Homo sapiens: one gene and its partners. The protein of the gene in region 1 purifies or fractionates together with the protein of each later gene. This does not show direct contact. Each region holds a gene or a part of one and is shown in the gene's direction. Other genes may lie near its edges.

Region 1 (8,053 bases):
AAGCATCGAAGATGGTGAGCCCTTTCCAAGTGCTACGTTATGAAGCTGCCAAATTAAGAACACTGAGCAAATGTAATTCTCCCGTAGTTGGGAAAGATTATATTTATTTTCTTCCTACTTTTTAATGTCTAGATCCAGAATATAAGAAGTTTTTAGAAACCTACTGTGTGGAGGAAGAGAAGACCAGTGCCAACCCTGAGACTCTGCTGGGGGAGATGGAGGCGAAGACAAGAGAGCTCATTGGTCTGTTTTGCTCATTTCTTCTCTTTTCTTTATTGAGAGATTTACTCGTAGAGGATATACGTTTTTTCTCTTTTTCTTGACTGTGATAACAAGTTGAAACTTGTTACAGGCTTGACAGAAATGTAGAGTGATTTCCAGTTTTGACAAAAGAATGGCAAGATGGCAGCATGGGAAAATATTTCTGAGCGTTGGTTGATGGAGAGCACGTGATTTTTTTAGTTAAGATCATTTTAAGTTATGATGCTTCCGAATGAGCAGTGCAGAAGACACATGAATGGTCTGTTCCTGAGCGTCAGGGAAGGCATGTTGTGTCACATAGTTGAAGTCAGTGGTCACAGACGGATGCCTCAAGAGCCCATAGGAATGAGATGTTTTGCTTGCGGTGAGGTCATCTTGCTGCTTCAACACAAATGCCAGGCTCCCCGAGCCAGGCCAACTTGTGGATAAGCCCAGCCAGAGCACAGAATCGAGTTTAAATCCAGCCTTCCACCCCATGCCCACAAGTGGTGTACTTTAGAAATAGTTACTTCCCAGTAGCACCAACATACTTCCCAGTAGCACCAACATGAAAATCAGGCAAACTGTTGTTGTTTAGTCCCAGACACACCTGGTAGTGTTTCTCTTCTCTGTGGATCTCCTTTCCTCAAAGCCCTGGTTCTTCACCTCTCATCTCTCCCGCCCAGGCTGTGCCCTGCCCACCCATCAAGATGGATGTACTTTGGGAGGCCAGGGTGGGCGGATCACAAGGTCAGGACTTCGAGATCAGCCTGGCCGACATGGTGAAACCCCATCTCTACTAAAGATACAAAAAATTAGCAGGGCATGGTGGTGCGTGCCTATAGTTCCAGCTACTGAGGAGGCTGAGGCAGGAGAATCGCTTGAACCCAGAAGGCGGAGGTTGCAGTGAGCTGAGATCGCACCACTGCACTCCAGCCTGGTGACAGAGCGAGACTCCATCTCAAAAAACCAATAAAATTGATGTGACATGACAGCCACATTGTTTATCATTTATTTTCCTGTCTGTCTCCCACCACATAAACTCCCTTCTTGTTTTGTCTCCCCAGTGGAACTATATTTTCATCTTCATGGTTGTAGAAAAGTTCAGGAATTTAGTAGATGTTGATTGAATTAATAAAAAAAGATTAATATTACTGAAATAGTCCGTTCACTTTCTTCATTTATCTAGTAATAAAGCTTTTTTTCCCCCCACTCTGTTGCCCAGGCTGGAGTGCGGTGGCACAATCTCGGCTCACTGCAACCTCTGCCTTCCCAGTTCAGGCCATTCTTCTGCCTCAGCCTCCTGAGTAGCTGGGATTACAGGCACCCGCCATCATGCCCAGCTAATTTTTATATTTTTGTGGAGATGGGTTTCACCATGTTGGCCAGGCTGGTCTTGAACTCCTGATCTCAGATGATCCGCCTGCCTCAGCCTCCCAAAGTACTGGGATTACAGGCGTGAGCCACCACACCTAGCCGTAATAAGGCTTTTGATCACTAAAGTAAACAAAATATGCTGAGGCTGCATGCTGCCTGGGCACTGACTCTGGGCCTCAGCATGGGGCCAAGTGGTAAGCAGGTTGCACAAGGCCTCTGCCTACCATCGGGATGACAGGTTGGAAGCAGGAGCAGGAATAGTCCAACCAGGGCACCTCAGTGTGTAATCACTGCCACTGATGTGACAAAGTGGAATATGGGAGGGAAAGAGGTTGGGAGACTCCCTCCAAGATAGTGGTGGAGCTGGAGCTGAGACTGGCTGCGGGAGGGAAAGAGGTCAGGAGATGAGCTGAGCCTGGCCGTGCTGAGCAGTGGAGGAAGGAAGCGCCAGGGGCAGGGCCGGCTGCTGTCGCTTTTCACTGCAGGCGCAGAGTGCAGGCTTGTGGGGTTGGCACACATGGGTGAGGGCAGCGTGGTTGGAGGTTCAGGGCACTGCAAGACATTTAGATTCATTCCAGGGCAACTGGAAGCCACTGGGGGAGTAGCATGGTCTGATTATTTGTCCCCGTCACTTTGGTGGTGTCACATGGGATAGACTGTGGATGCCAAGAGATGAGCGTGTGTTTTGGAGGTGGGCTGGACAGGACCGACAGACGGATAGGGTGTGGGAGGTAAGGGGACAGGAAGAATTAAGACTCCAGTGCTTGGCTTGAACAGATGGGTGGATTGTGGCACCATTATACACAAGGGAACATGAGGGTAGGACAGTATTGGGGGCAAAGTCGAGATTTCACTTAAGAACTTGATAAATTGAAGAAGAGCTAGAAGCAGCAAATTAGACGTTATTACAGGCCTCATCTCCCTGCCCCTCCCATTTCCATCTCACTTTGTTTTAAATGTCCCCTTGCAAAGGATCGGTCACTTTAGGGCTGTTTTGAGACATACCTTTTTGGGGCAGACACGTGGCTCCTGCCGGGGTGGGGAGAGGGGGGCATGTCCTGGCACCTCCCCGAGAGTCTGCTGCACAGCCAATGCTTCACAAAAGTTGGCTGAATGAATGAATGAATGTGGCTTAGAACCCACCATCCCTGATGGGAGCGATTAATTCATTCCAGGACTTGGCTGTAGAGTCTTCCTTGTTTCTGTGATTGCTGTTTCTATGTATGAAAAATTGAAACTTGGCCGGGTGCGGTGGCTCACACCTGTAATCCCAGCATTTTAGGAGGCTGAGGCGGGCAGATCATGAGGTCAAGAGATTGAGACCTTTCTGGCCAACATGGTGAAACCCCGTTTTTACTAAAAATACAAAAATTAGCTGGGCGTGGTAGCATGCGCCTGTAGTCCCAGCTACTTGGGAGGCTGAGGCAGGAGAATCGCTTGAACTCGGCAGGCGGAGGTTACAGTGAGCCAAGACCACGCCACTGCACTCCAGCCTGGCGACAAAGTAAGACTCCATCTCAAAAAAAAAAAAAAAAAAAATTTTAGGCAATTCATGGCAGATTACCTTTTTCTTTTCTAAGCTTTTGGCCTCCAGTGGATTCTTCTGCACAGGTCTGAGAAGCAAGTGTTAAATGGAAATACTAATAAGCTGTTTCTGGCAAGGACTCTGGAGTTGTTGAGTTAGTCTGGTGCATCGGCCTTTAGCATCGGCCTTTAGAGCAGACAGGCCTGGGTTCAGCTCTGAGACTTCTGTTTACTTGTGTTCTGTTGCATGGTTGTGCGTATTCTGTCTGATAAATAACATACTTTTATGATGTGTAGAACACTTTCTTATTCAGGGTCTAACGTACTTTGCCCGTGATCCCTGTGGGTGATAGGGCAGACATTTTATAGGAAGAGGAAGGTGGGCAAGCGGAGTCTGGGGTCAGCCTCCCCACACATCCAGGTGGTCTCGCCCGGCTCCTGGCTGACAAGTTCAGGCTTTCCACAGAGCAGAGCAGAACCCTGGCTGATTTGAGATAATTTGCCCATTACAAAGAGCTGACCATTTACCTGAGCCAGTGTGCTGTACTCACCCTGAGCCAGAGTTCATGGTCAGCCCAGGGACCCCTGGGGGAGTGTTCTCTGTGGCAACTGTGTCTGCCACGAAATGTGGCATTTGTACCTGCATCAGCTCTTCCCTACAACCACTGTGCCTGGGGCAGGGCTCCTGGGACAATCGGCTCTTCCCTACAACCACAGACTGTCCCTGGGGAAGGGCTTCTGGGACAGGTGCCATTTCATCTATGATGTCAGGGTGTCAGGGGTTCTCAGTTCCAAGTGATGGATCCCTGGCCAGGGCTTCTCCTATGATTCCTGATTCATTCCTGGTCCTCAGAATTCCAGAGATGATGTGTCAGTTTTCAGGTACATCCAGGGATTCTTCCCAGCCCTGTTTAGTCTGAGATCTTACAGACCCACAGAGTAGACCCCGTCTTCCCCCTTCCCATTTGTGTCCTTGTGTTGGTGGGATGTGGGGCCTGTCCATGTCAGCGCAAGTCCCTCTGAGGTGGGGCCTGTGGGGCCTCTAGCTTGCCTGGGCACCCACATCCAGGTCAGATCTGAGAGGTCGGGCATGAAAGCGAAGGACCAAGATAGAGTCTGTAGAAATGTTCATTCCCTAGTAGTTGGTGCCTTTTCTGCAATCAGCAGCGCCATATGGAGTCATTTTCTTTTTCTTTTCTTTTTTTTCTTTTTTTTTTTTTTTTGAGGCAGAGTTTCGCTGTTGTTGCCCAGGCTGGAGTGCAGTGGCGCAATCTCGGCTCACTGCAACCTCCTCCTCCCGTGTTCAAGTAGTTTTCCTGCCTCAGCCTCCCGAGTAGCTGGGATTATAGGCGCGTGCCATCACGCCCGGCTAATTTTGTATTTTTTCAGTAGAGACGGGGTTTCCTTAGGTTGGTCAGGCTGGTCTCGAATTCCCAATCTAAGGTGATCTGCCCGCCTTGGCCTCCCAAAGTGCTGAGATTACATGTGTGAGCCACCACGCCCGGCCCATGTGGAGTCATTTTCTAAACTACAATCCAGAGTTGTATGTCTTATCATTGGGATTTTATGGAGTATATATTGTAAGACATTACAAGAATCCATGTTATTTTAAAACTGTTGCTTGGAGAACGGAAAACGAAAAAGTTCTCAGAATATGCGATGTATCAAAATAAATATATGTTATTTAATGATTTAAGGCACCTACAAAAATATCATCTTGGAATATTTTAAGCCTCCCTTAAGAATCAGGAATTAGATGTCTACTATGTATGAAATTGTTGATACTTTCAAATTACTTGACCTGACAGTAATGGAATAAAAACTCCCCTGGAGACAGTGTGTAAATTTAAAAAGTAATGATATGGTTCCCGTATTTATTTTAAAGATTACATTCAAAACAAGTATTTAAAATACATCTTTCTTTAGGAGTTAAATACAATATTACAATTTTTGTGTTTTAGCTAGAAGAACCACACCTCTTTTGGAATATATTAAAAATAGAAAATTAGAAAAGCAGGTAGGTCTGGCCTTTACCTGATGAACACCCTCCCTGCTTCTGCCATTCTCATCCAGGCAGTTTATACACACGCTCTTCCATGTCTTTAGAGAATTCGAGAAGAGAAGCGAGAAGAACGGAGGAGGAGAGAGTTAGAAAAGAAACGTTTGCGGGAAGAGGAAAAAAGAAGAAGAAGAGAAGAAGAAAGATGCAAAAAAAAAGAGACAGATAAACAGAAGAAAATTGCAGAGAAAGAAGTAAGGATTAAGGTAATTCTGAGGAAACATTTCCTTTTTCCAAAAATAGCTCTGCTATAGTAATTACACTTTTTACATATCTTAGTTCTTTAGAATTTTGAAAACATTCTGAATTAATCTAATATTGTGTTGTTATTTTTTTCCATCTTTTCCATCTTTCTTTCCATCCTACAGCAGTGGTTATCACAGTGCGTCCTGAGCCCTGGGAGTCCTCAGGCTGCTGTTGGGTGCCTGTCCTCCTGGGTGTGCAGTGGGGAGCACACCCCACAGGAGCCCCACGCTGGCACACGTTGGGCTGCTGCTGACGCTCTTTTTTTTTTTTTTTTTTTTAAACTTTCCAACTTTCATTTTCGGCTCAAGGCGTACATGTGCAGGTGTGTTACATGTTCATTGTCAGCTCAACGCGTACACGTGCAGGTGTGTTACGTGTTCATTTTCGACTCAAGGCGTACACGTGCAGATGTGTCACATGTTCATTTTCAGCTCAAGGCGTACACGTGCAGGTGTGTTACGTGTTCATTTTCGACTCAAGGCGTACACGTGCAGATGTGTCACATGTTCATTTTCGGCTCAAGGCGTACACGTGCAGGTGTGTTACGTGTTCATTTTCGGCTCAAGGCTTACACGTGCAGGTGTGCCACATGTTCATTTTCGGTTCAAGGCGTACACGTGCAGGTGTGTTACGTGTTCATTTTCGGCTCAAGGCGTACACGTGCAGGTGTGCCACATGTTTATTTTCGGTTCAAGGCGTACACGTGCAGGTGTGTTACGTGTTCATTTTCGGCTCAAGGCGTACACGTGCAGGTGTGTTACGTGTTCATTTTCGGTTCAAGGCGTACACGTGCAGGTGTGTTACGTGTTCATTTTCGGCTCAAGGCGTACACGTGCAGGTGTGTCACATGGGTAAATCAAGTGTCACTGGGGTTTGGTGTGCAGATAATTTTGTTGCCCAGGTAATCAGCACAGTACCTGATGTTTTTCAGTCTTCACCCTCCTCCCATTCTCCACCCTCTACATTTTCCTTTAAAAAAAAGTTTTCCTCCCAGCACTTTGGGAGGCTGAGGCGGGCAGATCACGAGGTCAGGAGTTCGAGATCACCCTGACTAACATGGTGAAACCCTGTCTCTACTAAAAATACAAAAATTAGCCAGGTGTGGTGGCGGACGCCTTAATCCCAGCTACTCAGGAGGCTGAGGCAGGAGAATCGCTTGAACCCAGGGAGCAGAGGTTGCAGTGAGCCGAGATCGCGCCATTGCACTCCAGCCTGGGCGACAGAGCAAGACTCCCTCTCAAAAAAAAAAAAAAAAAAAAAAAATTTCCTGGCCGGGTGGGGTGGCTGACACCTATAATCTCAGCACTTTGGGAGACCGAGGCAGGCGGATTACTTGAGTTCAGGAGTTTGAGACCAGCTTGGCCAATATGGGGAAACCCCATCTCTACTAAAAACACAAAAATGAGCCGGACGTGGTGGCGTGTGCCTGGAATCCCAGCTACTCAGGAGGCTGAGGCAGGAGAATCACTTGAACCCAGGAGGCGGAGGTTGCAGCGAGCCGGGATCGCGCCACTGCACTCCAGCCTGGGCAACAGAGCAAGACTCTGTCTTAAAAAAAAAAAAGTTTCCCTGATTAAAAAATACACATTTGAAAACCACTGGTTTTGCCTTTCTGTGTGAAGGCTGACTCAGAACCGGGTTTTATCATTTCTTTGGCAGTAGCACTAATGAGTTTCTGTATTTCTTGCTGAGTTTTTTCTGTGACTGATACATTCATTTATGAGGGTGGTTTAATACATAGAGGGAATTTTTCTCTGTGTGAAATGTGTTGGCCAGAATTGGGACCAGCCATTATCTCCTCAGTACTAAACCTAGATTTGAACCTAAGGTATCACTCATTACTTATTATTTATTGAATACCTTATATTCAATAATATTGTACAATATGAGGAAAAAAATGAAATGTCAGGACTTGGGGAAAGAAGATAGCTTAGGAAAGGGTGGGGAAGAGATCATTGAACCATAGATTTGTTTCTGATATGGTCAGCAGTCAAAAACAGAAAAGTTGGCTGGGTATGATGGCTCATTCCTATAATCTCAGGACTTTGGGAGACCAGGGCAGGTGGATTGCTCTAGCCCAGGAGGTCAAGACCAGCCTGGGCAACAGAGAGAGACCCTGTTTCTGTTTTTTGTAGAGATGGGGTTCCCACTATATTGCCCAGGCTGGTCTCGTACTCTTGGACTCAAGTGATCTTCCTGCCTCACCCTCCCAAAGTTTGGGGATTACAGGCGTGAGCCACCATGCCTGGCCTGGTTTAGCTTTTAATAAGTATCTGTGCTCAGTATGGGGGTCTTTCACTTCTAAATCATGTGGAAAATTGAAATTCTTTTAATGCCTGAAAAATGGAATCTGTGGAGAAATGCAAAAGAAGGTGTATCAACAGCTTAAAGAAAGACAGATGGCTCATGGCTATTTTGCTATTTTTTTGTTTGGTTTTGGTGGGGGGGGGGTTTGAGACAGGGTCTCAATGTGTCACCCAGGCTGGAGTGTAGTGGCACAGTCACAGCTCACTGCAGCCTCTACCTCCCAGGCTCAAGTGATCCTCCCGCCTCAGCCTCCCATTACAGGGGTGCAACATCATACCTGAATAGCTAATTTAAAAAAAA
Region 2 (7,305 bases), on another chromosome or scaffold:
GCCGTGACAACCCCTGTGGCTAGGCCAAGTCGGAGGGGGATGGAGATGGAGGGGAGGGTGGTTGCTGGATTCACCAACTCCAGAGACAAGTTCTCTCCCTTGCAGCTGCCCGGGAACAGGCAAAGGAGGCGTGCAAAGCTGCAGCAGAACAGGCCATCTCCGTCCGACAGCAGGTCGTGGTATGTGCCAGCTTTTCTCCTTTTTCCTTTGAAAAACGATGCCCCTGCTTGTGGTCAGGATCTTCCTTGGATATCTTAGGGGGCTTGCCCTGTGCTTTATATTAAGTCCTGACTTCTTTCCGGTTCACCTTAGCTTGGCTATTAGTGTCTACCTCATTTCCGAAACCTCCACAAGATTGATATTGTAATTCCTCTTAACCTTCTTCCACTGTGTTTATGGTAAATATGCCAGACCACTCAACTGTAGTAGTAGAAAAGGTATTGAGGTTACAGTGCTGAAGCTTGTTGTGTGTCCTGCTGTGTCCTACAAAAATGTTGCATTCTAGAGAATGAAACCCCAGAGCACTCTGGAACTCTTTTTTTTTTTTTTTTTTTTTTGAAGTAGTGTCTACCTCTGTTGCACAGGCTGGAGTGCAGTGGCACAGTTGCAGCTCACTACAGCCTCAAACTCTTGGGCTCAAACGATCCTCCCTCCTCAACCACCCAAGTAGCTAGACCACAGGCACACACCACCATTCCCAGCTATTTTTTGTTATTGTTTTTGGTGGAGACGGGGTCTCACTATATTGCCCAGGCTATCACTCGAATTCTTAACCCCTGCCCCCTGCCTTTCCTTTTTTTTTTTTTTTTTTTTAATTTCCTTTTAAAAAAAAAATAGTGACATGGTCTTACTCTTACCCTGATGCCCAGGCTGGAGTACAGTGGTGCAATTATAGCTCATTGCAGCCTTGTACTCCTGGGTTCAAGTGATCCTCCCACCTCAGCCTCCCAAGTAGCTAGGACTACAAGCACGCACCACCATGCCCAGCTACATTTGTTTCTTTTTTTTTGTAGAGATAGGGGTCTTGCTATGTTGCCCAGGCTGGTCTCAGACTGCCTAAAGCAGTCCTCCCACCTAGGCCGCCCAAAGCACTGGAATTATAGGCATGAGCCACTGCACCTGGCCTGCTTGCCTTTCTTAAATGACCTCATGTCATTGTCCAGTGAGGAATTTGTTTCAGCTGACCCTGAGTGTTGGTCCCGAAGTTCCAGCCACAGCTCCTCTCCCCACCACTGACTGTTCTTCTTACCACTTAGGCAGCTGGGTCCCAGCTATTGCTGAGGCCGGTGGAGTTCCCTGTTCCCATGTGCCTCCCTGTTCCTCCCCCACATCTGTTCCTGATCTACAGCTAGAAAATGCTGCAAAGAAGAGAGAGCGAGCAACAAGCGACCCAAGGACCACAGAACAGAAACAAGAGAAGAAACGACTCAAAATTTCCAAGAAGCCAAAGGACCCAGAGCCACCAGAAAAAGAGTTTACGCCTTACGACTACAGCCAGTCAGACTTCAAGGCTTTTGCTGGTGAGGAAGTAATGGGGCCCCATACAGGGACATCTGTGCGCGTCAGAGGGGAGGAAGCCATAAAGAGACCACAATATAGGGGCCAAGTGAGTCCTGCACAAGGCATGGTGCTAGCCAGGAATTGTTGGAGTAGTCCAGAGAGGCCGTGGCAATGTGGACAGTCGCCTGCAGCCTCATTACCACCTCCTCCATGGGAGCTCAACTCATGGTGGCCTCCATGGTGGGTTAGCAAGATCACCTGTCACTTCCACTGTGACCAGGGCGCCATCCTTCCTCACTATAACTTGTGCCCATAAACCCTCTCTCTCTCTCTCACACACACACACACACAGAATTTTGTTTGTTGAAAAATCTCAAAGCCTATGACATGAACCCCTATGGCTGCTTGGGCTGTGAGAGTCCGTCTGCTTTGAAGGGGCTACAGATGGCATTCTCGACTCTAGCAGCCTTCGGAGCAACATGCTCCTTTGGAAAAGAGAAAGCAGAGGCCAGTCCACACAATGGCCCTTTATACAGGAGTGTCGCCTCAGAGCCCGAGTTCCTTATGGCATCACCCAGCACAGAGATCAGAATGGATTTCCTTATGTGCGGGGGCCACTGCTGTAGCCACCTGCCCCTAAGGTCCTGGGACTAGAGCTGAGAGAAATGGGCCTGGTTTTCAGACTGCCCACAGGGACCAGGATCGCTATGTATTCATTTATGTGAGCCATGAGCCCTAGCCCCTCATCGTGACAGGGGTGCTCTCACAGCCAAGGCTTCCCTGAGTGTCATGGTCCCGGCCTCGCTGTGAGCCTGTGATGTGTGGTAACTCATTGACCTGACCGCAGGTCTCTCTCATCTCTTACCTTTCAGGAAACAGCAAATCCAAAGTTTCTTCTCAGTTTGATCCAAATAAACAGACCCCGTCTGGCAAGGTAAGAACTGCTCCTGGAGGATTTTAGCACGCTGGTGGCGCCTGTTTCTGACCTCCTCCTCTGCTGAGAAGACAGGCCCATCCAGGAGTCCATTCCTTTGCATATCTTTTTCCTCACCTCATTTCTTCCCAAGGGCAGACAGTACTGATCAGCTACCCCAGCAACTCATAAAACGAGGCTGTAAAAGCTGGCATGTGGCTTTAAAGGGTATTATTCTGTGTTTGCTACCATGGGAACTATAGCTGCAGGCCAAAAGCACCCCCTTTGGGGCCAGCACAAGCCTGCATTCACCCCTCGTGGGTGTTGGTGCTGGTGCCAGGGAAACAGCGTGGCTGTAGCTTCCACAGGCGCGGGGGCAGGGCTGCTTTGGGGTGCTCCTGTTCCTCTTGCAGCGCATCCTGGCGGCCTTGCCTTCAGAGACACAGAAACATCCTCTCTCAGGGGATCTAAAGTCACTCCTGTGCTGCTAGAATCTTTGGCCACCTGAGCTCAGGTGTGTTTTTCTGTGTATCTTGTGGTCAAGGTGCCCACCCAGCTTAAACGGTTTCTTTTCTTTTCAGAAATGCATTGCAGCCAAAAAAATTAAACAGTCGGTGGGAAACAAAAGCATGTCCTTTCCAACTGGAAAGTCAGACAGGTATGTGGTGGACGGCGGTGTGGCCCAGGGAGCCCAGTGAGAAAGCACCTGCCCTGCGTGGTGTGGTCCGTGGGGAGTAGCTGGGGAGCGAGTGTCCAGGGGTCTTCAACCAGGATGACTCAGAGAACCTCCCACAGCCAGGTCCCTCACGCCACTCGGAAAACAAGGGCGGGAGGTGATTTGCTCTGTGCCATACATCACAGAGCCAGGCACTGCACCCCAGGACTCAGATTCCCCTTGTTCCTGGCTCTCTAGTTACCGTGTGTCCTGGGGTCACCTCAGGGAAAATAGGTGTAAATAGTTGTGAAATTTTCCTGGACCAGCCTATTAGGAATGAGGAAAAAGTAAGCACATGTGGGTTATCCTTGTTGTTGAAGAGTGGTTTGGCTTGGTTTGGTTTTGTTTTGTGAGAGTCTCATTCTGTCACCCAGGCTGGAGTGCAGTGGCACAATCTCAGCTCACTGCAACCTCCACCTCCTGGGTTCAAGCAAGTCTCTCACCTCAGCCTCCCGAGTAGCTGGGATTACAGGTGCCTGCCATCATGCCCGGCTAATGTTTTTTTTTTTTTTCTTCTTTGAGATGGAGTCTCGGTCTGTCGCCCAGGCTGGAGTGCAGTGGCACGATCTCTGCTCACTGCAAGCTGCGCCTCCCGGGTTCACGCCATTCTCCTGCCTCAGCCTCTCGAGTAGCTGGGACCACAGGCGCCCGCCATGATGCCCGGCTAATTTTTTGTATTTTTTAGTAGAGACGGGGTTTCACCATGTTAGCCAGGATGGTCTCGATCTCCTGACCTTGTGATCCGCCCGCCTCGGCCTCCCACAGTGCTGGGGTTACAGGCGTGAGCCACCGCGCCCGGCCTGTTTTTGTATTTTTAGTAGAGATGGGGTTTTGCCATGTTGGCCAGGCTGGTCTCAAACTCCTGGCCTCAATTGATCCTCCCGCCTTGGCCTCCCAGAGTACTGGGATTACAGGTGTGAGCCACTGCACCCAGCCAAATGTTTTTGTTAAAAACATAAAATCCTAATAATTAAGCCGACCCTGAGGTCAGGGGACTTGCCCGAGGGCAGGAAAAACAGGTCTGCCTTCTCAAGATGCTGCTCAGCTCAGCCAACTCTGGTGGGCCGCCGAGTTCTCTGGGGCCCCTGAGCAAACCATTCTTCCTCTGTTCTGCATGATTAAGATTTGCACCATTTTGTAAACCATCTGAGAACATCCAACCAGCCCGGAAGAAATAACTGTTGTTTTTGTACTCTCTGCAGAGGCTTCAGGTACAACTGGCCACAGAGATAGTCCTGGAAGACACGTGGCGCCTGTGGACCGGAAGCACCAAATGCTGGTGCTGCTTTTGTACATACATATTTTTAAACCATTAAAATTCTTCCTGAAGAAAGCTGATTCCTGACTTTTATTTTGTTGCCGCCACAGCTCTGGCAGGTTGCCATCCTGTTCAGGCAACCATCTTCAGCTGTCTGTGGGCAGGTGAGTGTGCTCCGGGGGTTATGGTGACTTCTAGAAAAATCCAGAGCCGGCCGGGTGCGGTGGCTCACGCCTGCAATCCCAGCACTTTGGGAGGCTGAGGCAGGCGGATCACGAGGTCAGGAGATCGAGACCATGCTGGCCAACACGGTGAAAGCCTTTCTCTACTAAAAATACAAAAAATTAGCCGGGCATGGTGGTGGACGCCTGTAATCCCAGCTACTCAGGAGGCTGAGGCAGGAGAATCGCTTGAACCTAGGAGGCGGAGGTTGCAGTGAGCCGAGATCACGCCACCTCATTTGAGCCTGGGCAGTAGAGCAAGACTCTGTCTCAAAAAAAAAGGCAAATGCAAAGAGAAAATTTTAATCATTTGTAGTCCTGTCACACAAAGATGCTTTTTTCCTTTTTTTGAGACAGGGTCTCACTCTGTTGCCCATTCTGGAGTGCAGTAGTGTGATCCTAGCTCACTGCAGCCTTGACCTCCCAGGCACATGCCACCACACCTGGGTAATTTTTCTTATGTTTTATAGAGATGGGGTCTTGCTGTGTTGCCCAGGCTGGTCTTGAACTCCTGGCCTCAAGCAATCCTCCTGTCTTGTCCTGCCAGTGTTGGGATTTCAGGCATGAGCCACCACACCCAGCTGAGATTAACATTTTGCTGTATTTCCTTATAAGCTTTCGCTATGTGTATATAGATATATTTTTAAAATATATCTTGGGTTCAGGTTTCTATCATTTGTCACCTTGAAAGTTTGTGTTATGACACTTTTCTCAATCTAAAATTTATTTTCGCCAACCCCCATTGTTAAACGCTTAGGTTTTCATTTTTGGTACTATTCTTAATAATGCAGCACTCACTAAACTTTTATATAAATTTGTGACCCAGTCTCTGATAATTTCTTTAGAACTTCATTTTATTTTAATCCTGAGATGGGCTAATAAATCAGGAAAGCACAAAATGCCATTACTTTGGTTTTTACAAATACTTAACCTAGAAACCTTTTTTCTTTGAAATTCATCCCACAAAGTATTGAGATTGCCAACTGTATATGATAACCTTTGGGGGGTACCAAGCCAAATCACACATCACTGCCGTCAGAGAGCTCCCACTCTTGAACAGCAGAGAACAGCCCTGTCCTAAGATAGGCTGGAGTTTGTTTTAGCTAGGACTAGACTGGTTGAAAATGACAGAAAAGCCAAACTATAGTGACTTTTAACAAGAGAGATGATTTTCCTCCTCTTTTGTAAACATAGTTGGCCCAGAGCTAGTGTGATGCTCATGATCATCAGACACAGGCTCCTATCTTGTTTTACCATCCTCAGCTCAAACACAAGGCTGCCGCCTCATGGTGCAGGGTGACTGCCCTTGCTCCAGCCATTACATTCTCATTCCAGTCTGCTGGAAGGAGGAAAGAACAGCACCCAATCTCTTTGAATAGGATACTGCCCATTTCAACTTCCCATTGGTCAGAACTTAGTCACAAGACCACAGCAAGGGGTACTAGGAAATATCATTATTTCAGTCATCCGTGTGTCCAACTAAAAGCCCAGGGTTCTACTATAGAATTTGGGAAGAACAGACATCGAAGGACAAAGAACAGTCACTGCCTAAAAATGGCAGTCTCTGCTATAAAAAATTGACAAGCGGAATTTTTTTTTTTTTTTTTTCCTGAGACGGAGTTTCGCTCTTGTTGCCCAGGCTGAAGTGCAATGGCACGGCACAATCTCGGCTCACTGCAACCTCCACCTCCTGGATTCAAGCAGTTGTCCTGCCTCAGCCTCCCAAGGAGTTGGGATTACAGGCGCCTGCCATCACGCCCGGCTTATTTTTGTATTTTTAAGTACAGACAAGGTTTCACCATGTTGGTCAGGCTGGTCTCGAACTCCTGACCTCAGGTGATCCACTCACCTCAGCCTCCCAAAGTGCTGGGATTACAGGCGTGAGCCACTGTGCCCGGCCTCACAGGTGGAATTTTTTTTTTTTTTTTTTTTTTGAGACAGTCTCGCTCTTGTCACCCAGGCTGGAGTGCAGTGGTACGATCTCAGCTCACTGCAACCTCTGCCTCTCGGGTTCAAGCAATTCTCCTGCCTCAGCCTCCCACGTAGCTGGGATTACAGGCGCCCACCACCACACCCAGCTAATTAGTGGAGACGGGGTTGTACCATGTTGGCCAGACTGGTCTTGAACTCCTGACCTCAAGTGATCCGCCCACCTCAGCCTTCCAAAGTGCTGGGATTGCAAGGCGTGAGCCACGACGCCTGGCCAAAGTGAGAAATTATTTTCTCCTGAGGATGGCCTGAGAGGCCTCGTGAAAGGCGCATTCGGACTGGACCCTGAGGAGCAAGGGACTTCCAGAGAGCTCTATGGCAGCGCAGCTCAAAGCGGAGGTCTCTGACAGCCCAGATGAGGACTTGTCAGAAAGAATCCAGTGCCACCTAGAGCCTGGAGGCTGCCAGGGCCGCTGTGCTCACCCGTTAAAGTGATGCCGCACCCTTTCTTTGGAAGTTTTCCATATTGGTTTTGTCTGTGTGACAATGTTTTTCTGTTTGTTTGTTTGTTGGTTTGTTTGTTTTTTGAGGCAGAGTCTCCCTCTGGCGTTCAGGCTGGAGTGCAATGGCATGATCTTCGCTCACTGCAATCTCCATCTCCTGGGTTCAAGAAATTCTCCTGCCTCAGCCTCCCAAGTAGCTGGGATTAGAGGTGCCCACCACCACGCCTGGCTAATTTTTGTACTTTTAGTAGAGATGGAGTTTCACC
Region 3 (7,517 bases), on another chromosome or scaffold:
TTCTCCAAATATTCCAGTTAAAATATGTAAATACATAAATGCCAAGATATTTGGAGGTTAATCAGCAGAGAACAACTTAAGCATTAGATTAACATTTTAAAGTTATTTTGTAAATTTCTATTTTATGGTATAAAAAAATTTGTGATGTAAAATGTCCCAGTTGAGGAATATGTATTTCATATTTGTAACAGTGATTTATTGGGGAAATTACGGAGTTGACCATTGTATAAGATTAGCATAGCATCTTTTAAATAGACCTTCTTAGCATTATGACTCCCACCAAAGTTGCTCGTAGATAGTTTCAAGACCTAATTTTCTACTTTTCTTAGGTCTCACTCTGTCAACCAAGTTAAAGTGCAGTGACATGATCTTGGCTCACTGCAACCTCCACCTCCCAGGCTCAAGCAATCCTCACACATTAGCCTCCTGAGTAGCTGGGACCACAGCCACGTGCCATGCCTGGCATCCCAAAGTGCTGGGATTACAGGCATGAGCCACTGCGCCTCGCCTAATTTTCTGAATCTTATTAGTGTTTTTCATATTAAAAGTTTTCTTCTTCTTAGAATTTGTGTATGTGTATTTCATAACACTGAAATATATTATGATTCTTCTCTCCTAACCTAAAAGTGTCTTAAATAGCTGAACTTTAATTAAGCTATACTGTTTTACAGGTCTGGCTGCTTTTTATCTCTATGAAAAGAATATTTGAACATAGTGCATATCTTCTTCAGTGGCGTGTGCTGGTGCCTTGAATGTCACTGTTTAATGTAGTTTTCAAATGCTCTACTGGTACAGGCTGTCTCCATAAGAATCGCCTATGGAGCTTAATACAAACTCCAGGGCCCCTCAGAGTCTGGCTTACTAGGTCTGAGGCCCTGTCCAGGAATCTGTATTTCACAAACTCCTCAAGTGATTCAGATATACAAATTAGATTTGGCACCCATTGGTTCATTACATTTTTAATAAACAAACTGTAAGTGAAAAAAGGCCTTGACTTCAAATATTAAAATAGAGAAAAGAAAGATTCTACCTGTCATATGAAGGTGATGAGATTTCAGGACTTGAGGTTTTTTGGTTTTTTTGTAGGCTGGGATCACTATGGAAGCAACTATGCATTGGGGGCAGGTGAGATCCTTAAGATTTCTCTATTTGTGCCCAAGCTTTTCTCTCACAAGGGACAATTTCATGACCCTTTTATTTTTTTTATAAATATAATTGCAAATATTCCTAAAACTTGTATCAGCATATGATATTAGTAGTAGTATTCTCCTTTTCAGGCCAGTATAATGATAAATTCATTTGTGTAGATAGTCCACACAGTCCTAGGAAAGGATCCTGAGGTTGAATGTTGTAAGGAAGAGTAATTATAGGTGAAGTAAGTGTAGGCCTTTTGCCAAAGGGGAAAAAAAAAGCCCAAAAAGGCTAGCAGAAGGAGGTCTCAAATTTCAGAGCTTTGATGATACCATTTTACTAAAAGAAAAATTTTCCTTGGTTTTTAACAGCTAATATAATGCCTTCGTCGTCTCATCTCTTTGGCTCAATGCCATGGGGACCATCGGTGCCAGTTCCTGGGAAGCCCTTCCATCATACTTTATATTCTGGGACCATGCCCATGGCTGGGGGAATACCAGGGGGTGTGCACAATCAGTTTATACCTCTGCAGGTAAGAAAAATAATATTTTTAAGATAATTATTTGTTTAATGCTGAAAGACTATTGATAAACATTTTTTTATTCAGTTTACTTATTCAGTGCCAACTAGAAGTTCAGTACTAGTGTGGGTAGTAAGAAGGCAATGGTTGACAAGTCTGACCTGTCTCTGCTCTCTGAGTTTGTGTTCTAATAAACAATAATTGTACCAAGTAATATGCTATTCTAATACAGATTGATTAAAATCAGTAATATAAATAAAATCACAAATATTTTCAAAATAACCTATGAAGAATTGTATTTTTATTATTATTATTATTATTCATTTTTTTGGAGAAGGATCTCACTCTGTAGCCCAGGCTGGAACGCAGCCCATGCACAATCTCGACTCCCTGCAGCCTTGACTTCCTGGGCTCAAGTGATCCTCCCATCTTAGACTCCCGAGTACCTGAGGCTACAGGCATGTGCCACCATGCCTGTCTAGTTTTTGTAATTTTTTTGTAGAGATGGGGTTTTGCCATGGTCTCGAACCCTAGGTCTCTACCGATCCACCTGCCTCGGCCTCCCAAAGTGCTGATATTACAGTTGTGAGCCACTGCACACAGCCCAAGAATTTTAAATATTTTGTTTGTAACTAAGTCCTTTGAATTACTAAAGTCTTACTTGGCAATTATAAGTGGAAGTCACAGATCAGCTGTGATTGACAAATATTAACAGCATGCATGGTTTATGGTAATTTCCAACACTAGCTAATTTTTTGCCTACATTATTAATTAGTGATGCTTTTATTCCTAACAGGTTACTAAAAAAAGGGTTGCAAACAAAAAGAACTTTGAGAATAAGGAAGCCCAGAGTTCTCAAGCCACTCCAGTTCAGACTAGCCAGCCAGATTCTTCCAACATTGTCAAAGTAAGTCCACGGGAGAGCTCATCAGCTTCTTTGAAGTCCTCTCCGATTGCTCAACCTGCATCTTCTTTTCAAGTTGAAACTGCCTCTCAAGGCCATAGTATATCTCACCATAAGTCAACACCAATCTCTTCTTCAAGAAGAAAATCAAGAAAACTGGCTGTTAATTTTGGTGTTTCTAAACCTTCTGAGTAAATTTGGCTCTTAGAATTAAGTTAATTTCTTCTCTTTCCATCTACCTTTTTATAAATACATATCTATGTCTCATAAAAATTAGAATGTACTATTTTAAAATAATATGTGTAAATTGAAATTTTTTTCATTTTTAAGTTATCAGGCACTTTTCATGCTGTTTAAAAGACTGTGTATCAAATTGTGCACTTTAAGTATGTGCAGTTTGTTGTATGTCAATTATACCTCAATAAATCTGTAATAAAAAACTAAATTAAACCTTGCATTAAAATAATATCACAGTATCAGTGGACTAAACATTAAAATGTACCACTCTAATCATTGGCCTCATGATTGAAGCATCCTGAACTATGAATTAGACATCAGTTAGCAATAATAAGCATTTTTTACACTATCATTGAGGAATAATTACATGGAGCATGAAATTTGGGCCTCCAGTATAACTTACTGAATGTGGATTTTATTTCTCTTTTTAATGATGTAAGAAAATTGTCAGGAGAATGGCTCTTATTTATGTGTGTTTTAACTTATGCTTTGTTGCCTCTGAGGGTCTTTAGACCTGCTGTGAAAGGATCACATTTGTTGTGGTGCTGCCAGTTTTGCTTTATTCTAAATTTTGTACCAAAGCAACTTTAGAATAATCAGAATATTTCATCTAACTGCTTAGAACTATAAATAGCATTCTAAATTTGAGTAAATACAATTTTTTAGGTTACTCAAGAACCAGCATTAGTAATTTCTAGTAAAATTGTTTCAAAATCTACAGGGTACAATGATTACAAATTAATCTTCTAACAAAATAAAATATGAAATATTAGTCATGTTAATTAATAAACTGTATTATTTTGTATAGCTTTTTATTTGCTTACCTGACATTTTATGAGAGCTTCATAGTTGGTCGGTATGTAGTGCTTCTTGGGACTGAAGAAATTCTAATTGTTGTTTAAGTTCCAAGGTGTGCTACAATATAGGAGGCACAGTCATCAGTTTGTGACATACATTATTTACTGCCTATTTCATTCTGATTCTATATTTTTAGCTTTATGCTGAACTGTTCAATGATGCTGGGATTCTCTCTTTGCATGTCATATGTGAATGTGTGGTTCAAGCTGTAACTGTTGAAATTATTTTAGAATTTATGACGATTTCTCAGCAGGGCCTATGTTTATATATATATATATATTTATTCTTTAGTTTTTGTGATATGCTTATATTTTTAAGGAAGTAAGTTATAGCATACTTTTTTAAAAGTAGGAACCACAATCTTTATATGGAGCAGCTTGTTATATCTGATTTTCATGTAACTCATTGGAAACTCTGCCATGACTCTTAAAGTAGTCTTACTTGTTTTTTAAAATGCTGGTATTAAACTAAATGGACTCCTTTCACTAACTGCTGATTTCAGAGTTTAAATGTTAGCAGGATATTTGTGTATTAGCAGTGCCTTCAGTATAAGAGAGAAATATTCATTATCTGTCATTTATCATAGTCGTATAAGTTTCCATGATTTTATTTTCTGTTATTTTCATAAGTTCAGATGTTTATCAGTTCCCAACATTGTTTCTTTATCTGTAGTGGGATCTTGAGTAATGAGGCTCAAGTAAATCCTCAATGTGTATAATTATTGCCTCATAAACTCTCTCTTTGTTTTTAAAGGAAACATCTATTATGGTAATACAAAGAAAAGTTAAATTGTGACAGTAATGTTATATTAACCTCTTCCTACTTTAAAGTGTGAAATGTTTCACCTCAGCTGTACAAACTCCAGCATTGAGAATTTGCCTCACTCATTACTCCTGTGTGACAGTTATATAAATAGCATGCAGCTCACATCTGTTTTAGAGCATAGAAGAAGCGGCACCTGCCATCTTCTGAAAACTCCAAAGGGAAATTTCAGTAGACATAGTGCACTAAACCCATAAGGATACTTGACCAATATTTGAGCACAGCAAGCTGACAGTTCTATACAGATAGGCAGTGAAAGAGTTTTATTTTCCAGCCAGGCGCAGTGGCTCAAATCCCAGCACTTCGGGAGGCTAAGGCAGGCGGATCACTTGAGGTCCGGAGTTCCAGACAAGCCTGGCCAACATGATGAAGCCCTGTCTCTACTAAAAATACAAAAATTAGCCGGGCGTGATGGCACATGCCTTTAGTCCCAGCTACTCGGGAGGCTGAGGCATGAGAATCATTTGAACCCGCGAGGCAGAGTCTGCAGTGAGCCGAGATTGCACCACTGCACTCCAGCCTGGAGAGCAGAGCAAGACTCTGTCTCAAAAAAAAGAAAAAAGTTTTATTATCCTTACTTTTTTTTTAACATTATTATTCTAAAGGTCAAAACTGAGAAGAGATTAAGATAGGAGAGAGCTCCATAATGGCTGGATAGTGGTCAGGCATTCTCTATTCTTTTCCCCCTGTAGACCCATTCTAAATGTGGGCCTGAGGTCAATGGGAGATGTGCCCTCCCTATGGAGGATGTAAGAAGCAGAGGCCATTTCTGCCCCATGTTGAGGAAACAATCTGTTGATAGACCTGGAATTTAGAGTATATCTGAAAAGCAGTTGGACTTCAAGAAATTTAAAATTCTCTCTTTGAGATGGGGTGGACTAAGACCACCCCCAAAGTTTAAAAATATGCTCATTCAACTTGAATCTTCTGAGGACTTTTTGTGAAAATGGTGGACTGTTTAGGGCATAGGACAGATTCCCCAAATTGCTTTATGCTTCCACATAACTAGAGCACTTCAATCTATTTAAGCCTTTGTCTCCTAACTGAAACATTATTTCTAAATATTTCTATTCAATAAGTTTTTTCTTTTTTGAGCAACTTAAGTGAATTTTGAAGATTGCTCCTTCCAGTCTCGTTCCTTTTCACATTTTCCTGCATTACCTAATAATTACCTCAGCGTTAGAATTTGAATGTATTAATTGATTTAAACATCATGTAGACTAAAGTCTTAAACATCTAAGACTCAGTTGTAGTTGCAGAAAAAAATTAAAGTCACCTCTACTGAACCTTGGTTTCAATTTAAGATTTTTCTTGCTTTTCAAAGGGGTAACTAATAAAGATTGAAGGGTTTTTTTCCCGATTGGTGGAGGAATGAAGAACTATTGATGCAAGTTTTTTTATTGTTTCTTTCTATGATCAGGTACCTGCTTTCATTTTAGACTGCTACTTCCAAACTAAGCTAGATTCTTGGTTTTAATGAGAGGAGGCAGAGAGAGGGAGGCAGATGGAAGAAGAAAAACAGTTAAATAAGACATACCCAGTCACTGCATTTTTGGACTATACCGTATCTTTCTAGCACAAGGAAATAGATAAACTGTAAGGTCTTTTTTACTCACTTTTTATTTATGTGTTCTATTTGTGTTAGTCATAACTGTTTATAGTGGTTGTCTAATTTTTACTTTTATTATATGAGATAGAGCTGTGCAGATCTTCACTCAAGTTAGTTCTGTCACGCTTCTTCCCATTATTTAGAGCACAGTTTTTTAAAGCAACTGTACAATTTCTCAGCCTTATGAGCTTGCTGTATTTCTTGGTATCATGTTGCTTCCAAATTTTGTTTTTACTGTAGAAGACAATTAATTTATTGTAGAGAAGTGGCTGTGAAAGTCGTTCTCTGTCTTTAAAAATCAATTGCAGAAGTTCATTTGTCATTTTTCTAGAGATAAATTATAGTACTCAAACTGGCAGTGCTCAGTATATACATTTTGTAAGCTTTGTCAGTGAAACCATCAGTTTTGCAGGAGCTTCCTTTCCTAGTCAAGATAAAGCTTAAAATTCCAGAAATTAATGTCGTTCGGACTGACTTTATTCATATTTCCATCAAACTTCTCCAATACAGTAAGAGATAGTGTTGAACCAGCATCAAGTCTCCAGAAACATGGCAGAGCAGACAGGCCGTTAAGTTTCACAGACATCATAGATCCTTTTCTTAAAGAAGAAAAACATGTATAAAATAGTTTTAGTAGTCCAAAATGTCAACTATCTGTAGCTGCTTTTGTGTGTGTGTCAGTGAACAAATAATAATGCCTTGCTCAATCAATGCATTCAGCCATCTCAAGTGCAATTTGTGAAGGAGACTATGGTTTCCAAAAGATACATTTTTTTACAAAGTTAAACCTGTAAAAAGTCTTTTTTTTTTTCCCTCCAGCCGTACACCAACTGCACTTGGTTGTTTCAGCAGTTGGTATACTATTAAATTGTCCAGGCCAAATAGGTTTCTGTAGCTGTTTTAGTAATTTGAAGCCAAATTCTCATGCTGTTTCTCATTAAAAAGAATGAGAATTTGGTCCATAGTTAGCTTTAAGTTCTCTCTTCCTTTCTTTCCCTTACAGTTAAGGGTTTGGTGGGGGATGGGGAGGTTGTTTTCGTTTTTTGGATTTTTTTGTCTTTTGGCTTTAAGTATCATATTTTCTTTTGCCTGTATCCAACTGCTTCTTTGAGTATTTTCATCTAGTTTAATGTGAGTAATAGATGCTGTGCTGTCATTGAAGTGTTCAACATTTTGTTCATTTAAACAAAAGTGTAATTCATACATATATAGATACATATCTTAATTGATTTCTCAACTATTTTATAAGTAACTGGAATTTTTCATTAGATCTTATACAGAGAAGTATTTTATTAAAAATTCAAAAGGGAAGACTTTTATGTGCTCATTTTGTAATTTTTGATTTTAAATATCTTTACATTGTCTGCCAATTAAAGTGTTTTAAACTTGCATTGGAATGGACTCCGAATGTATTTTTGTGGTGTTACGTTATCCGT
Region 4 (8,053 bases), on another chromosome or scaffold:
TCACTCTGTCACCCAGGCTGGAAGTACAGTGGTTCAATCATAGCTTACTGCAACGCTGAACTCCTGGGCTCAGCCTCCCAAGTAGCTGGGACTACTGGTGTGCATCACTGTGCCTGGCTAACTTTTTAATTTTTTTATAGAGACAGGGTCTTGCTGTGTTAACCAGGCTGATCTAGAATTTCTGGGCTCAAGTGATCCTCCTACCTCAGCCTCCCAAAGTGCTGGAATTACAGGCTTGAGCCACCGCACCCAGCCTCCTGACCCTTCTTATAAGGGCACTAATTCCCTCGTGACTTAATTACCTCCCAAAGGTCTCACTTCCAAATACCATCGTACTGGGGAGGCTTCAACATATGAATTTTAGGGGGACACAAACATTGAACCTATAGCACTACCATTTCCTTGGGATCCACTCACCCAATTAAAAGTGGGAGGGTTTTGAGGTAGGAGTGGGAGGAGATGAGGGGAGGAGGAAATCTGCAAGAAAAACCACTGACACTTGCTGTGGTATGGTACTTGGTGCGTAAGAATACCTTTCACAGGCCGGGCGCAGTGGCTTACTCCTGTAATCCCAGCACTTTAGGAGGCTGAGGTGGGTGGATCACCTGAGGTTAGGAGTTTGAGACCAGCCTGACCAACATGGAAAAACCCTGTCTCCACTAAAAATACAAAATTAGCTGGGCATGGTGGCACATGTCTGTAATCCCTGGTCCTCGGGAGGCTGAGGCAGGACAATCACTTGAATCTGGGAGGTGGAAGTTTCAGTGAACCGAGATTGCGCCATTGCACTCCAGCCTGGGCAACAAGAGTGAAACTCTGACTCAAAAAAAAAAGAATACCTTTCACACTTGTTGAACCATGCTGTTAATTTAAATCTGTTTTGGTCTGAACTTTCAGGCTTGGTCTATGTGACTATGAATAATAATACCTCTCTTCTTTTCTTCATTAGGTTCTTTTCTCAGCCCTCCAAAAATTCATGTGTCTGCCAGATCAAAACTCATTGAACCTTTTTTTAACAAGTAAGTAATCAGAGAGTTCCAGTTTCCAAGTTCTCTCACTGTGGAACAGCCTCATATCTTGGGATGTCAGTTTGGAGTTATTGGGAGCTATAACACATTTTTAGATAAGCTGTTTTTCATCTCGAGTGACTCACATGTTTTTTGAAAGTAGAAAGTGACCTTTTGGGGAACAAATGTATTAAAAATATAGGCTTAAAAAAAAAAAAGAAAACATTGCTAGACGTAGTATAGTAGATCTCTTCCAAGAAAAAGAACTGGTAGTTCTGGCATTTAAATTTCCTATGAGGGGCCGGGTGTGGTGGCTCACACCTGTAATCCCAGCACTTTGGGAGGCTGAGGTGGGCAGAGTGCTTGAGGTCAGGAGTTCGAGGCCAGCCTGGCCAACATGATGAAACTCGTCTCTATTAAAAATACAAAAATTAGCCAGGCGTGGTGGCATGTGCCTGTAATCCCAGCTACTCGGGAGGCTGTAGTGGGAGAATTGCTTCAACCCAGGTGGCAGAGGTTGCAGTGAGCTGAGATTGCACCACTGCACTGCAGCCTGGGCAACACAGCAAAACTCTGTCTGAAAAAAAAAAACAAAAAAAACAAAAGAAAATTTCCTGGCCAGGCGCGGTGGCTCACGCCTGTAATCCCCCAACTTTGGGAGACTGAGGCAGGCGGATCATGAAGTCAGGAGATTGAGACCATCCTGGCTAACACGGTGAAACCCCATCTCTACTAAAAATACAAAAAATTAGCCGGCACGGTGGCGGGCGCCTGTAGAAAACATGATTTTCTTAGCTCTTTTATTTTTTGGGGCAGTGTTTGTCTTTGGAAATGTAGCCTTTGCTGTAGACCATGGAACCCACAGGTGATTGATGTTAAATATAGTTCTTTTTTTTTTTTTTTGAGATGGTGTCTCACTCTGTCACCCAGGCTGCAATGTGGAGTGCAGTGGCACAATCTCAGCTCACGGCAATGTCTGCCTCCTGGGTTCAAGCAGTCCTCCTGCTGCAGCCTATGGAGTAGCTGGAACTACAGGCATGTACCACCACACCTGGCTAATCTTTATATTTTTAGTAGAGATGGTGTTTCACCATGCTGAATAGGCTTCTCTCGAACTCCCTGACCTCAGGTTATCTGCCCACCTCAGCCTCCCAAAGTGCTGGGATTACAGGTGTGAACCACCGTGGCCAGCTAAATATAGGTCCAATTATGATTGTTCCCTTACATTTTTATGTACTTGATGTTAAATTCATTGTTCTGCAGTATTTTTCAACTGAGAGATGTTGACTCATTTGTATTATTATTATTATTTTTTTGAGTCACGGTCTTGCTCTTTTTTCCATGCTGGAGTGCAGTGGCATGATCTTGGCTCACTGCAGCCTCCACCTCCTGAGCTCAAGTGACCCTTCCACCTCAGTCTCTTGAGTAGTCATTTGTAAATATTTACACGCTGTAAATATTAAAACAGTAATCCTGCTTCTCCACTAAAGTCAGCTCCTTATAAAATCAGATGTTGGATGCAAACTGGGTTAGATGTGGGCTGCATCTAGTTTATCAGTCATGTATGTGACCAACATGCAGAGCAATCAAAATAAACTTTGATTAAAAAGCTTAGCTGGGCTGGGTATAGTGGCTTACGCCTGTAATCCCAGCACTTTGGGAGAACAAGGCGGGCAGATCACTCGAGGTCAGGAGTTCGAGACCAGCCTGGCCAGCATGGTGAAAACCGGTCTGTACTAAAAGTACAAAAATTAGCCTGTATTCCCAGCTACTCGGGAGGCTAAGGCAGGAGAATCGCTTGAAACCAGGAGGCGGAAGCTGCAGTGAGCCAAGATCACACCACTGCACTCCAGCCTGGGCAACAGAGTGAGACTCCCTCTCAAAAAAAAAAAGAAAAAAAAGCTAGCTGAGACTTTCTGTATTTCTAGATCAATCTAATATTGCTAATACTGTGCAGGACTATTATTGAAAAGAACTAGACAGTAAATGTGTAGGCTTATTTTGAATTGGGACATCTGTCCATTCAGAATTTTTTTGTAAAACCTAGATGCATACCAAGAGTAGTTGAATAGGAGGTGGGATTTGGGAATCCTTCTGTGATTATTTTTTTGGTCTATTTTTTTCCAATCTGTAAAGGAAGAATATTTTCTTCATCATTAAAGGAAAAATATTCCTGCAAGATTTGAAATACAAAATAAGAACTGTGTTTTTTTTCTTTCTTTTTTTTTTGAGATGTTGTTTCACTCTTGTTGCCCAGGCTGGAGTGCAATGGCGTGATCTCGGCTCACCGCAACCTCTGCCTCTCGGGTTCAAGTGATTCTCCTGTCTCAGCCTCCCAAGTAGCTGGGATTACAGGCAAGTGCCACCATGCCCGGCCATTTTTTTGTATTTTTAGTAGAGATGGGGTTTCTCCATGTTGGTCAGGCTGGTCTCGAACTCCTGACCTCAGGTGATCCACCCGCCTCGGCCTCCCAGAGTGCTGGAGTTACAGACGTTAGTCACCGCGCCTAGCCAAGAACTGTTTTTATTCCTCTTTTTTTTTTTTTTTTTTTTTGGTGAGACAGAGTCTCACTCTGTCACTTAGGCTGGAGTGCAGTGGCGTGATCTCAGCTCACTGCAACCTCCACCTCCTAGGTTCAAGTGATTCTCCTGCCTCAGCCTCCTGAGTAGCTGGGACTACAGGCTCGTACCACCACGCCCTGCTAATTTTTGTATTTTTAGTAGAGACAGGGTTTCACCATGTTGGCCAGGCTGGTCTCAAACTCCTGACCTCAGGTGATCCACCTGCCTTGGCCTCCCAAAGTGTTGGGATTACAGGCGTGAGCCACCATGCATGGCCTGTTTTTATTATTATTTATTGGAATAACTTGGTTAAGTATAGGCATTCATTCTTAACCCCCTTAGAAAGTGGGTTTTATGGCCAGATGCGTTGGCCTATGTCTGTAATCCCAGCACTTTGGGAGGCTGAGGCGGGCGGATCACCTGAGGTCAGGAGTTCAAGACCAGCCTGGCCAACATGGCGAAACCCTGTCTCTACTACAAATACAAAAAGTAGCTGAGCGTGTTGATGGGTGCCTGTAATCCCAGCTACTGGGGGGGCTGAGGCAGGAGAATTGCTTGAACCCAGGAGGCAGAGGTTGCAGTGAGCCGAGATTGCGCCACTGCATTCCAGCCTGGGCAACAAGAGTGAGACTCTATCTCAAAAATAAATAAATAAATGTAAGTAAGTAAGTAAGTAAAGTGGGTTTTCTGGACCAGGTGCCGTGGCTCATGCCTGTAATCCCACCACTTTGTGAAGGTGAGGAAGGAGGGTTGCTTGAGCCCAGGAGTTTGAGAGCAGCCTGGACAATGTGGCAAAACCCAGTCTATACAAAAAATACAAAAATTAGGTGGGTGTAGGGGCAGACACCTGTAGTCCCAGCTACTCGGGAGGCTGAGGCAGGAGGATCACTTGAGTCTGGGAAGAGGAGACCAAAAAGAAAAAAGAAGGAAAAACAATTGCTTCTTTTGACATCTCTTTCTATGTTAATACTGACCTTGTTTTTACTTACTTGCAGGTGATTTAGGATATTAAACCTTGATTTTTGTCATTTTTCATGGTTACCCTTGTAGAAAAACATTTGGTAGTTGCCCCCAACATTATCTCAAGCTGATGATTTTAGAAAAATATGCAAGATTTTCTGAAGATTAATTTATTTTGACACCAGTCTTTTCTAAATGTAACCTTTACCAAACATGCATACTCCTAACATAAATTTGGGTGGACATTAAACTGCCCACATATGCAAACAATATTTTATTTTGCTCTCACCAGACTTAACATTTAAAAAGTAAACCTCGAAGGGAAATAAACTTCACTTACGTCTGCATTATTCTAAATTAGCATTTAGTAGCATCAGTTATGCCATTTTGGGAAGCTTTATCAAGTCAACTATTGAGGAAATCCTGAGACCACTGTTGTTTAAGCAGTATGCAAAGACTGAATGTGATATGAGGTGTTTTTTTAAGCCATACTGGTCTAGAAGAATGTCCCATAAGGGTTTTGCATGGTGCCATTTTGTCTTTTTCATGGCCTGGGCACCTCCCATAGTCCTCCTTGCTTTTTTGGAATCAGGAGGAAAGTCATGAGAGAATTGAGCCATGGAAATCAGGATCACGCCACTGCTAATGACAGCCTGTGTGGAATGCACTCTGTTTATATTGGAGGCTGTCTCCTCAGCAAATGATTTACCTGCTTTTATAGCTTTGGTCAGTTTTAATCAATGCATTGAAAACCAAACTTAATGTTAAGATCCTTTGGTCAAATCCAGATCTAAAATCTAAGAGCTAAAAATGCTCTCTGCTTTTGCTTTTTATTGTACAACAGAAAGCACAAAATCAGACGTTTGCCTTATGTTTTGTTAACTGTCTTCGGTATTGTCAAGACACCTTGACCCTTTTATGAAGGTTTTCGGGAAGGTTGTTTTCTGTTTACCTCAGTTCTTAGAAAGAGGAAGAATAAGCAGGTCTCTTTTTTGGCTATCTTCAGTAAGCACTGGAATGTGAAAAGATGAGCTAGATGCCTGCAGTTTACTCTACAGGACTGCTTCCTTGTTTTGAATCTGAACAGGGTTCCGCTGGAAATCTAGGCCTTCCTGGAATGACACTGCTTTATGGTCTTTCTGAGCTACCGATGAGACAAGGAATGATATGCTCTTGGACAAATGTTTTCTCCTCTGTAAAATGGGGATAAAATGATTCACCTTCTGTATTGGTCCATTTTCATGCTGCTAATAAAGACACAACTAAGACAGGGCAATTTACAAAATAAAGAGGTTTATTGGACTTGTAGTTTCACGTGGCTGGGGAGGCCTCACAGTCATGGCAGAAGGTGAAAGCCACATCTCACATGGCAGCAGATGAGAAGAGAGCTTGTGCAGGGACACTCCCATTTTTAAAACCATCAGATCTTGTGAGATTCATTCACTATCACGAGAACAGTGCAGGAAAGACCTGCCCCATAATTGTATCACCTCCCACCGGGTTCCTCCTACGATATGTGGGAATTGTGGGAGTTAAAATTCAAGATGAGATTTGGGTGGGGACACAGCCAAACCATATAATTCCACCCTTGGCCCCTCCCACATCTCATGTCCTCAGAATTCAAAACCAGTCATGCCTTCCCAACAGTCCCCCAAAGTCTTATTTCAGCATTAACTTAAAAGTCCACAGTCCAAACTCTCATTTGAATCAAGGCAAGTCTCCCTTCCGCCTATGAGCCTGTAAAATCACAAGCAAGTTAGTTACTTCCTAGATACAATGGGGGTACAGGCTATGGATAAATACAGCCATTCCAAATGGGAGTAATTGGCTACAGGCTCTTATTACCTGTGTGATTTTGGGCAAGTTATGCAAGTCTGAAATCCAGCAGGGCAGTCAAATCTTAAAGCTCCAAAATGATCTCCTTTGACTCCATGTCTCACGTTCAGATTACGCTGATGCAGGAGGCGAGTTCCCATGGTCTTGGGCAGCTCTGCTCCTGTGGCTTTGCAGGGTTACAACCTCCCTCCTGGCTCCTTTCATGTGCTGGCATTGAGTGTCTGTGGCTTTTCCAGATGCATGGTGCAAGCTGTTGGTGGATCTGCCATTCTGCTGTCTGAAGGACAGTGGCCCTCTTCTCACAGCTCCACTAGGTGGTGCCCCAGTAGGGACTCTGTGTGGGGGTTCTGACCCCACATTTCCCTTCTGCACTGCCCTAGCAGAAGTTCTCCATGAGGGCCCCACCCCTGCAGCAGACTTCTTCCTGGGCATCCAGGCATGTCCATACATCTTCTGAAATCTAGGTAGAGGTCCCCAAACCTCAATTCTTGACTTCTGTGTGCCCACAGGCTCAATGCTGCATGGAAGTTGCCAAGGCCTAGGGCTTCCACCCTCTGAAGCAACAGCCTGATCTGTACCTTGGCCACTTTTAGTCATGGCTGGAGCAGCTGGGATGCAGGGCTCCTGGGCCTGGCCTGTGAAACCATTTTTTCCTCCTAAACTTCTGGGCCTGTGATGGGAGGGCCTGCCTTGAAGACCTCTGACACGCCCTGGAGACATTTTCCCCATTGTCTTTGGCTCCTCATTACTTACGCAAATTTCTGCAGCCAGCTTAATTTCTCCTCAGAAAATGGGATTTTCTTTTCTTTTTTTTTGAGATGGGGTCTCACTCTCTTGCCCAGGCTGGAGTGCAGTGGCACAATCTCGGCTCACTGCAACCTCTGCCTCATGGGTTCAAGTGATTCTCCTGCCTCAGCCTCCTGAGTAGCTGGGATTACAGGTGTGCGCCACCACGCCCAGCTAATTTTTGTATTTTTAGTAGAGGTGGGATTTCACCATGTTGGTCAGGCTTGTCTCGAACTCCTGACCTCATGATCTGCCCACCTTGGCTTCCCAAAGTGCTGGGATTACAGGCATGAGCCACCATGCCCGGCCAGGATTTTCTTGTCTATCACATTGTCAGGTTTCAAATTTTCCAAACTTTTGTGCTCTACTTCCCTCATAAAACTGAATGCCTTTAACAGCACTCAGGTCACCTCTTGAATGCTTTGCTGCTTAGAAATTTCTTCTGCCAGATACCCTAAATTATTTCTCTCAAGCTCAAAGTTCTACAAATCTCTATGGCAAGGGCAAAATGCTGCCAGTGTCTGCTAAAACATAACAAGGGTCACCTTTGCTCCAGTTCCCAAAAAGTTTCTCATCTCCATCTGAGACCATCTCAGCCTTGATTTCATTATCCATATCATTACCAGCATTTTGGTCAAAACCATTCAACAAGTCTCTAGGGAGTTCCAAACTTTCCCACATTTTTCTGTCTTCTTCTGAGCCCTCCAAACTGTTCCGGCCTCTGCCTGTTACCCAGTTTCAAAGTCACTTTCACATTTTTTGATAGCTTTTCAGCAGCCCCCTCTCCCGCCCCAGTACCAATTTACTGTATTAGTCTATTTTCATGCTGCTGATAAAGACATACCTGAGACTGGGCAATTTACAAAAGAAAGAGGTTTATTGGACTTACAGTTCCATGTGGC

The links.
Region 2: the proteins of UPF3A (region 1) and EXOSC10 purify together in Homo sapiens (affinity purification with western blotting, with the first as the bait; one study listed by BioGRID). This does not show direct contact.
Region 3: the proteins of UPF3A (region 1) and XRN1 purify together in Homo sapiens (affinity purification with western blotting, with the first as the bait; one study listed by BioGRID). This does not show direct contact.
Region 4: the proteins of UPF3A (region 1) and PARN purify together in Homo sapiens (affinity purification with western blotting, with the first as the bait; one study listed by BioGRID). This does not show direct contact.

The regions. Positions count from the first base shown.
Region 1 is NC_000013.11:114,286,387-114,294,439, forward strand, and holds part of UPF3A (regulator of nonsense transcripts 3A), read left to right. Parts: coding exon 1-14; intron 15-132; coding exon 133-243; intron 244-352; coding exon of another isoform or gene 353-369; exon of another isoform or gene 370-926; coding exon of another isoform or gene 927-1,150; exon of another isoform or gene 1,151-1,400; intron 1,401-5,102; coding exon 5,103-5,158; intron 5,159-5,214; coding exon of another isoform or gene 5,215-5,247; coding exon 5,248-5,406; intron 5,407-5,412; exon of another isoform or gene 5,413-6,198; intron 6,199-6,284; exon of another isoform or gene 6,285-7,335; intron 7,336-8,053. UniProt on the Homo sapiens protein: Involved in nonsense-mediated decay (NMD) of mRNAs containing premature stop codons by associating with the nuclear exon junction complex (EJC) and serving as link between the EJC core and NMD machinery.
Region 2 is NC_000001.11:11,063,774-11,071,078, reverse strand, and holds the end of EXOSC10 (exosome complex component 10), read left to right. Parts: intron 1-90; coding exon of another isoform or gene 91-105; coding exon 106-179; intron 180-1,348; coding exon 1,349-1,520; intron 1,521-2,372; coding exon 2,373-2,434; intron 2,435-2,994; coding exon 2,995-3,071; intron 3,072-4,330; coding exon 4,331-4,361; 3' UTR 4,362-4,461; downstream 4,462-7,305. UniProt on the Homo sapiens protein: Catalytic component of the RNA exosome complex which has 3'->5' exoribonuclease activity and participates in a multitude of cellular RNA processing and degradation events.
Region 3 is NC_000003.12:142,306,744-142,314,260, reverse strand, and holds part of XRN1 (5'-3' exoribonuclease 1), read left to right. Parts: intron 1-1,086; coding exon of another isoform or gene 1,087-1,125; intron 1,126-1,502; coding exon 1,503-1,663; intron 1,664-2,447; coding exon 2,448-2,750; 3' UTR 2,751-7,517. UniProt on the Homo sapiens protein: Major 5'-3' exoribonuclease involved in mRNA decay. Required for the 5'-3'-processing of the G4 tetraplex-containing DNA and RNA substrates. The kinetic of hydrolysis is faster for G4 RNA tetraplex than for G4 DNA tetraplex and monomeric RNA tetraplex.
Region 4 is NC_000016.10:14,573,840-14,581,892, reverse strand, and holds part of PARN (poly(A)-specific ribonuclease PARN), read left to right. Parts: intron 1-949; coding exon 950-1,019; intron 1,020-5,616; coding exon of another isoform or gene 5,617-5,635; exon of another isoform or gene 5,636-5,814; intron 5,815-8,053. UniProt on the Homo sapiens protein: 3'-exoribonuclease that has a preference for poly(A) tails of mRNAs, thereby efficiently degrading poly(A) tails.